2 linked regions of the Homo sapiens genome follow. The protein of the gene in region 2 purifies or fractionates together with the protein of the main gene of each other region. This does not show direct contact. Each region holds a gene or a part of one and is shown on either strand. Other genes may lie near its edges.

Region 1 (2,252 bases), on a different chromosome or scaffold from region 2:
AGAATCTTCAGGTGAGTAGCAAAGGACACCAAGGAAGTAGTCTGGTCAACGCTCACTCAGAGGCAGTAGTGGAACACAGTCCCTATTTATTAAAGGATGGGCCTTTTCTAAGGGCAGCAGAGCTGCTTCTGAGACCATGAGGTGCCCCTTCCCCCTCACCTACCTTCCCTTTATGTTCTCACATCAGACATATCTTATCTCCCTTCTAGGTGACTCTGATCCCTACTCATGACACGGAGGTGACTCGTGAGTGGTACCAACAAACTCATGAGCAGCAGCAACAACTGAATGTCCTGGTCCTGGCTAGCAGCAGCACCGTGGTGATGCAGGATGAGTCCTTCCCTGCCTGCAAGATTGAGTTCTGAAAGAGCCGCCCTCCCTTCCCCAAGGATCCACTCCCCCAGCTCCTTTAGAGAATGGCTACTGCTGAGTCCTTTGGGGTTGAGGGAGATGGGAGCTAGGGGGAGGGGAGGGAGATGTCTTGTTGTGGGGACTTGGGCTGGGCTAAATGGGAGGGGTTGTCCCTCCCCATCATCCATTCCTGTGAGGTGTCTCAAACCAAAGTTAACAGGGAGAGGATGGGGGAGGGGACAAATTAGAATAGGATAGCATCTGATGCCTGAGAACCCTCTCCTAGCACTGTCAAATGCTGGTATTGAATGGGGACTGAGGATGGGTCTCAGAGAGCAACCTCCTCCCTCGTAGAGGGAGATTATATCCCCAACTCCAGGGACCTCTTTATCTCAATCTATTTATTTGGCATCCTGGGAGGGATTTCCAATAGTAATTTATGTGACCTGGGGCAGGATACCGTCAGTGAGGTGCCCAGAGCTGCACCCTTTCCTCCATTTCCCATCCCCCATCTCCTCAACCACCAGGGTCTGAGTTCTAGCAGGGTCCTGGGGGTATCCCACTGCTATACTGTTCTACTGCTTCCCTCAGTATCTGAATGTCTCAATTTAAAACTTGAAGCTCTTTAGACCAATAGACTGGTGAGAGGAGAAAGGAGCTTATCCCCCAGACCCTGCTTTATACCATTCACATCCCAGGGCTGTGTCCAGACAGCACAAAACGGCAAGGAGAGCCCAAGCCCCAATGCCAGAATTCTTCCAAACTCCCTGACTCTTTGAAGTTTTTACTCACCCCATTTCAATTATCCTGATCCCTTCTCATCCCCTGCTTGGCTTCTCTGCATGTGGTCATCTGCTGTGGCTTGGTGTTTAATGGGTTAAAAATAAGCCACTGCCTGACATCCCAACATTTGACACCCCAGCAATGTGTGACTCCCCCAACATTCCACTATGCCATCCTGCAGCTGAAATGGGAACACTGGCTGCCTCTCCAAACCCGCTCTTGGACAGAGGATCTGGGAGGTGGAAGCCAGGCCAGAGGACTTGGGGAAAATGAGATGGAGGAAGGAAAAAGGGAGAAGCTGAGCCACAGCTTAACTCCTACAGAGTGAAATGAAAACGGGCTGAAAATACCACCCCAGGAGAGGACCTCGCCCCAAGCAAGCCAGTGAGCAGCCCTGCCAGACTACTGCCAGACTGAGAAACCCAGAAGCTGGTAGTCATGTGGGCTTGCCTTCTCTGCCAAACGACTGGGAAACCAAAATGAGCCCACCTTGTGTTCTTCCTAGCTCCACCCTCCCCGTGCTGCTGTGTTCTGCTCCTCCCCACGCTTCCCTGCTATAGTTCCCAGCTGCTGTAACGGAGCCACCTCCAACTCTAACAATAAACCAAGTTCATTGCAGATAGTGTAGTGCTGCTTAGGCTTTTTCTGACTCCATACATGCTTAGTTACTGGGCCCTGGCTTCTACCTCTCTGCTTCAACCAGTATTGAATTTATCTTGGAAGACTCCAATGCTTTTGATTACTGGAAACACTTGTGCCTGAGTATGAAGAATAGGAGCCTAGGGTGGATACATACATCTGGTCTGGGGGAGGGAAGAGGGGCAGAAGGCCTCCTGGGAAGGGGATATGCATTCCGTGGGGTCAAGAGTTGAGGACCAAATAACCAGGATCAGCTACCCTGGACAGCCTCTTGGGCTAAAGGGGTAAAAAGCTGAAGGACCCTAAGAGATCCAGAGCCTAATGAGGTTGGAAACAACTCTCCTTGTGCAGTCAGGATTTCCATGGAGTAAAACGGTCGACTTTCCTCCTCCATGGAAACCCTTTATAGTCCTAAGTATGTCAGAAGTGGCCAGGTTATGAATGTGTATATTTGGGGAGGGGCATATTCTAGCCCTCCC
Region 2 (4,258 bases):
TTGGGCCGAGGGTTCCCCGGACCCTTCCCTGAACTTTTCCGCAGTTTCAGAGGAGAGTCTGCAAGTGAGAGCTGCAGTGACTGTGCCTTGTGCTTGGCACCCAAGCAGGGCATGGGAGTCTTAAGTGGAACCAGGGCCTCAAGGACAACAGAGAGCCGCATGGCAGGGTAGACACCTGGATAAAGGTGGGTGGGGAAGCCCACTGCTGCACCCCGGGCATGGCTGGCACTTGATTGCTTCAGAGAGCTCAGCAGCAGGTTGGTGGTAGCATGCTTGGCAAGGGCTGGTGTGGATGCTTTGGCCAGTCTGCCAGATAGCGGCATGGGAAGCAGTGTGGCCCGACCTGCAGGCAACCGCATGGCAGTTCGGGGAGCACTGGCTGGAGGTGATGTGGCAGTTGGGTTAGGGGCACGAGCTTGCAGTTTCGTCTGGCTTGGGGGATTAGCTGTGCATGAACTATAGCCATAGACATCACCACTGCGCAGGATGGTAGGTTGGAAGCCATCATCTCGCAGGCCCTGCAGGAAGGCCACAAGCTGGGCCTCTGTGGCACTGAGATCCTGGCTCATTGGGTTAAAGACAAGCAGTGCCTCTTCCAGGGCCTTCTTCCCTGCCGTGGAGATGCGCGACCAGGAGTGCACAGCTTTTTCCTCCACATGCTGAACCACCACACTCATGGCATTAGGCACTGCAGATCTGCCTGGGTATCCGCAAACCAGCGCTTGGCACCTCCAAGACAAGAGGAAAAGAGTCAATAAGAATGGCACTAAGACAAGGGGCCAGAACACATAGACAAGTCAATCAGTGCCCCAATCTCCATGACACTGAGGAATCTGGCCAGAGTGAGACACTTCCTGGTGTAAAACCCTGGTCTCCTGACCCTCTACCATGCTGGGGTGGGAGGAGAGGCTAAGGATCAGGGAGTTTCTTCAAGATACATGCTCAGAAATACCTCAGAGCCATCCAACCTGCTGCCGGGTCCCTGAAAAGATTTGAGCCTGGTACATTTTAATTCAACTCTGTATTTTCTGAAGCCAGAAACCTAGAATTACTCAGCTCTGGGAATACAGGCAATATCCCTGTCCTCAAGGAACCTAGGTTAGAAGGCCAGAAAAAGACACTGTTAAGATTCTTGGGAGTGAATGCTGGCATTCAGCTCAGTTTGCCAATGGGTCAGGAAAGGATTCCTGGGAGAGACAACACCTAGCTAGGATATGAGTGATGAATGAAAAATGATTAGATGGAAATGGAACAAAAAGGGGAATAGCTAATGCAATGGCTCCAAAGTGAGAAAGGGTTAAGGCATACTTGGTGTGGGATCTGGGATCTAGGTGAAAAAACAGGCGAGGATAGAGCAACAAAGAACCCTGAATGTTAGCCAAAGGGCCCAGACTTACACCCACTGTCCATGCCCATCTGTTTCTCCAGCTGCTGCTGTTCATGTGTGGAGCTGGAGTGGGGTGGGGGAATCTCCCTGCCCACCAGAAGTTCTGTTTTCAGTCTCTAGACAGGGTACTCAGCAACCCATTTTCTAGCTCCAGAGGCATGGAGACCTAATCAAGAGTCGGACTTTTCTTCAACAGAAACTAAAAAGCTGATGAGTAGCAGGTGCCAATGACATCTCTCTAGGCAACCAGGCAGACCAGGGACCAGGAAGCCAGACCAAGATCCCAAAGTTTAAGGACAATGGGAGCCAAAGGCTGCAAGTAGGATGGTGAGTCAAGGGGACATTAGCGGTATGCACTGTCCTACCTAAGACTTGGAGGGCCACAGACCTCAGTACAGCCCAGATGGAGGTGACTGAGAACACCTAACTACTCCCAGACTTCTTTAAAGAAGCTGTGGACATCAATCATAACTAACATCTAATACCCAACCCAACACTGAGGGTTCCCAGAAGCAAGAGGCAGCTCCCCAGCTGCACCAGAGCATTAAAAGATCAGCCAGGATCAGGCAGGTCCCTCGGGCCATGAGGCCCGTCTGTGTAGTTTCTTCCCACCGCTCTAATGCAGCAGATGAAGTCTTCAGAATACCCTGGAGGAAATGCCCTAGGGCTCTTTGTTTGGAAACATTCTTGGATCCTCAGGTGTCTTGGGCACTTCCCCTCCCCAGAGACCGTTCTCCAAGCACAATCCTTGCACATGACTTTAGTTCTTTATTAATGTTTTTTGAAGGGATGTAGTTCCCAGAGCTGTGAACTGTAGAAGAGAGAGGGACCTATTTCCCACCCTCACACGCGCCCCAGCGCAAATATTTGGGGTGACCTGGGGGCTCTTCCACCCAGGTTAGGCTGGGCTCTTGGGAGGGGTTTTCTGGGCTTTCGAGAAGCTTCGGAAACAGAGGCTCCTGCCCGGCCTCCGACTTCCCTTCACACGTGCCCCCGGGGAAGGCAGGAGAAGTTGACGGAAGATAGGGCGTGAGAGAGGCGCCACACAGGCAGACCGGGGGAGGGGGCAGATCGGGGCCCTCAGGCTGGGAATGCACGTCCTTAGGGCCCAAGCCGTGAGGCGGGGGTCACTGAGGCAGCGAAATGTACAGGGTGAACGGTGCTAGCCCTACCGGGACCGCACAGCCCCAGGGTGGGGTCGCTGGGCGCGGGGTGGGGGTGGGGTGGGGGGTCTCGGCCAGGCCGGCGGAGGACGCGGGTCCGGGAAGAGTTGGCCGCTTGCCCGTCCGCCCTGCCGCCTCGCGGGCCGCCCCTCCGCGGCGCGGCTAGGCCCGCGGCTCCAACCTACCGGCGCCGCCGCGGGGACCCAAGACGCGCCTCTGCGCCGCCTCCGCTGCTCCAACATGGCCGCCCGCTGCGCGCCGGAAGTGCACTGCGCTTCCGCTTCCGGGACCCAGCCCGCCCTACCGACCCTTGACCCCTGAGACCCCATTTCCCCACAAAGTCTGGGGGCGGAGCAGATTGGGTACCAAGGAGGACTGCCTGGAGGTGGTGGCCGCGGTGACTGCTCCAAACCCGTTCGGCCCTGTGCAGAAGTCTGAAGAACAGAGGTGCCCTCTGACGCGGCCCCAGGCAAGGACTCACTAGAGCCCGGCCAAGACTGGATTAGGGGTCATCTGACACCTTTTCTGAGGGGAGCTAGTGGTGCATTGACATCTGGGAGGGGCTCCTGACAAGGTTCAGGCCATCTTCCACCCTCTGATCTATCTTTAGCCACTGACAATGCCCACTTCAGTCCCAGACACCTGACCAGAGGGTGAAAGAGGAGTGCCTCCTGACAGGGAGTCTCAGGTGATCTCCTTTGTTTTGCAGTAAGGGTATCTTCTCCGAGGACAGCAGGCCTTCCTCTCTTCCTGAGAATAGGGCCTGTGGCACATGGCATGAAAGGCTGGTGTGCACGTGATCACAAGTGGTGCACGCAAGCCCAAGCGCACATGGAGTCTGGGGGCTCCAGTATACCACTGTGGGCCTGAGTATACTTGCTCAGGCAGGTGGGGGCAGGTATAGTCACTGGCCCAGCCTCAGCCCCTCAATGGAAGGAAGTCCTGCTTCCAGTCTTAACACTGCCCAGAACCCCTTTCCTTTTGCCTAGGAGTCTGGGACCTCAGTCTTTTTATCCATGCTCTTGGGCTAGTACGGGGTGGTGGTTATAGGACACAGGTCAAAATCAACCCTAGGGGTCTGTGACTTCAGTGAGAGGTCAGAGTGGTCTCCACAGCTCTGACCAAAGGTCCCATTAGTCAGAGGTTTGCAAGTCCAGGTTGGGAACCATCCTGGGAGCCCTGGTTTCATGGATGAGGTAGTGGGGGCATTTGCACTAGGGTCAGAGCCTGAGCCAGGAGGCAGAAATATTGCCACAACTCTTGGACTCTGACCCTTGCAGTGGTGCCTTATTTGGTAGTTGGGGTCAGGTGGAAGCCTATTGGCAATCACAGGAGGGTGGCGGGATGCTTCATTTAGGGACTGGGTACTAGCCCTTTTTCCTGCCCTTTTTCCAACCAGGATCCTCTGGTTGCTCTGTATTTTCCCTGCTTATACAGAGGGGTCCAGGCACTCCTAAAGACAAGTGCCTAGTCCACCCAGCAGTGCCATAGGCCTCATCTGGTGCCTCTTAGCTTCCCAGGGCCTCAGCACTAATGGTGAGGTCCTCGCTGCTTTTAAGTATAGCCAAGGTATCTAGCAGGAACTGCAAAATCTCCTGTTCCTCTGGGGTCAGTGCTTCTAGCCTTTTTTTCCTGGTGGAGAGAAAGCAAGAGTAGGGTCCCAGGGGCCAGGATCTCATGGGGTGCAGTCAGGAAGCCCCACCTTGGT

The links.
Region 1: the proteins of CCDC71 (region 2) and MAP1A purify together in Homo sapiens (affinity purification with mass spectrometry; one large-scale study listed by BioGRID and IntAct). This does not show direct contact.

What each region holds. Positions count from the first base shown.
Region 1 is NC_000015.10:43,529,860-43,532,111, forward strand, and holds the end of MAP1A (microtubule-associated protein 1A), read left to right. Parts: coding exon 1-11; intron 12-209; coding exon 210-365; 3' UTR 366-1,752; downstream 1,753-2,252. UniProt on the Homo sapiens protein: Structural protein involved in the filamentous cross-bridging between microtubules and other skeletal elements.
Region 2 is NC_000003.12:49,163,532-49,167,789, forward strand, and holds the start of CCDC71 (coiled-coil domain-containing protein 71), read right to left. Parts: upstream 2,801-4,258; 5' UTR 2,736-2,800; intron 730-2,735; 5' UTR 678-729; coding exon 1-677.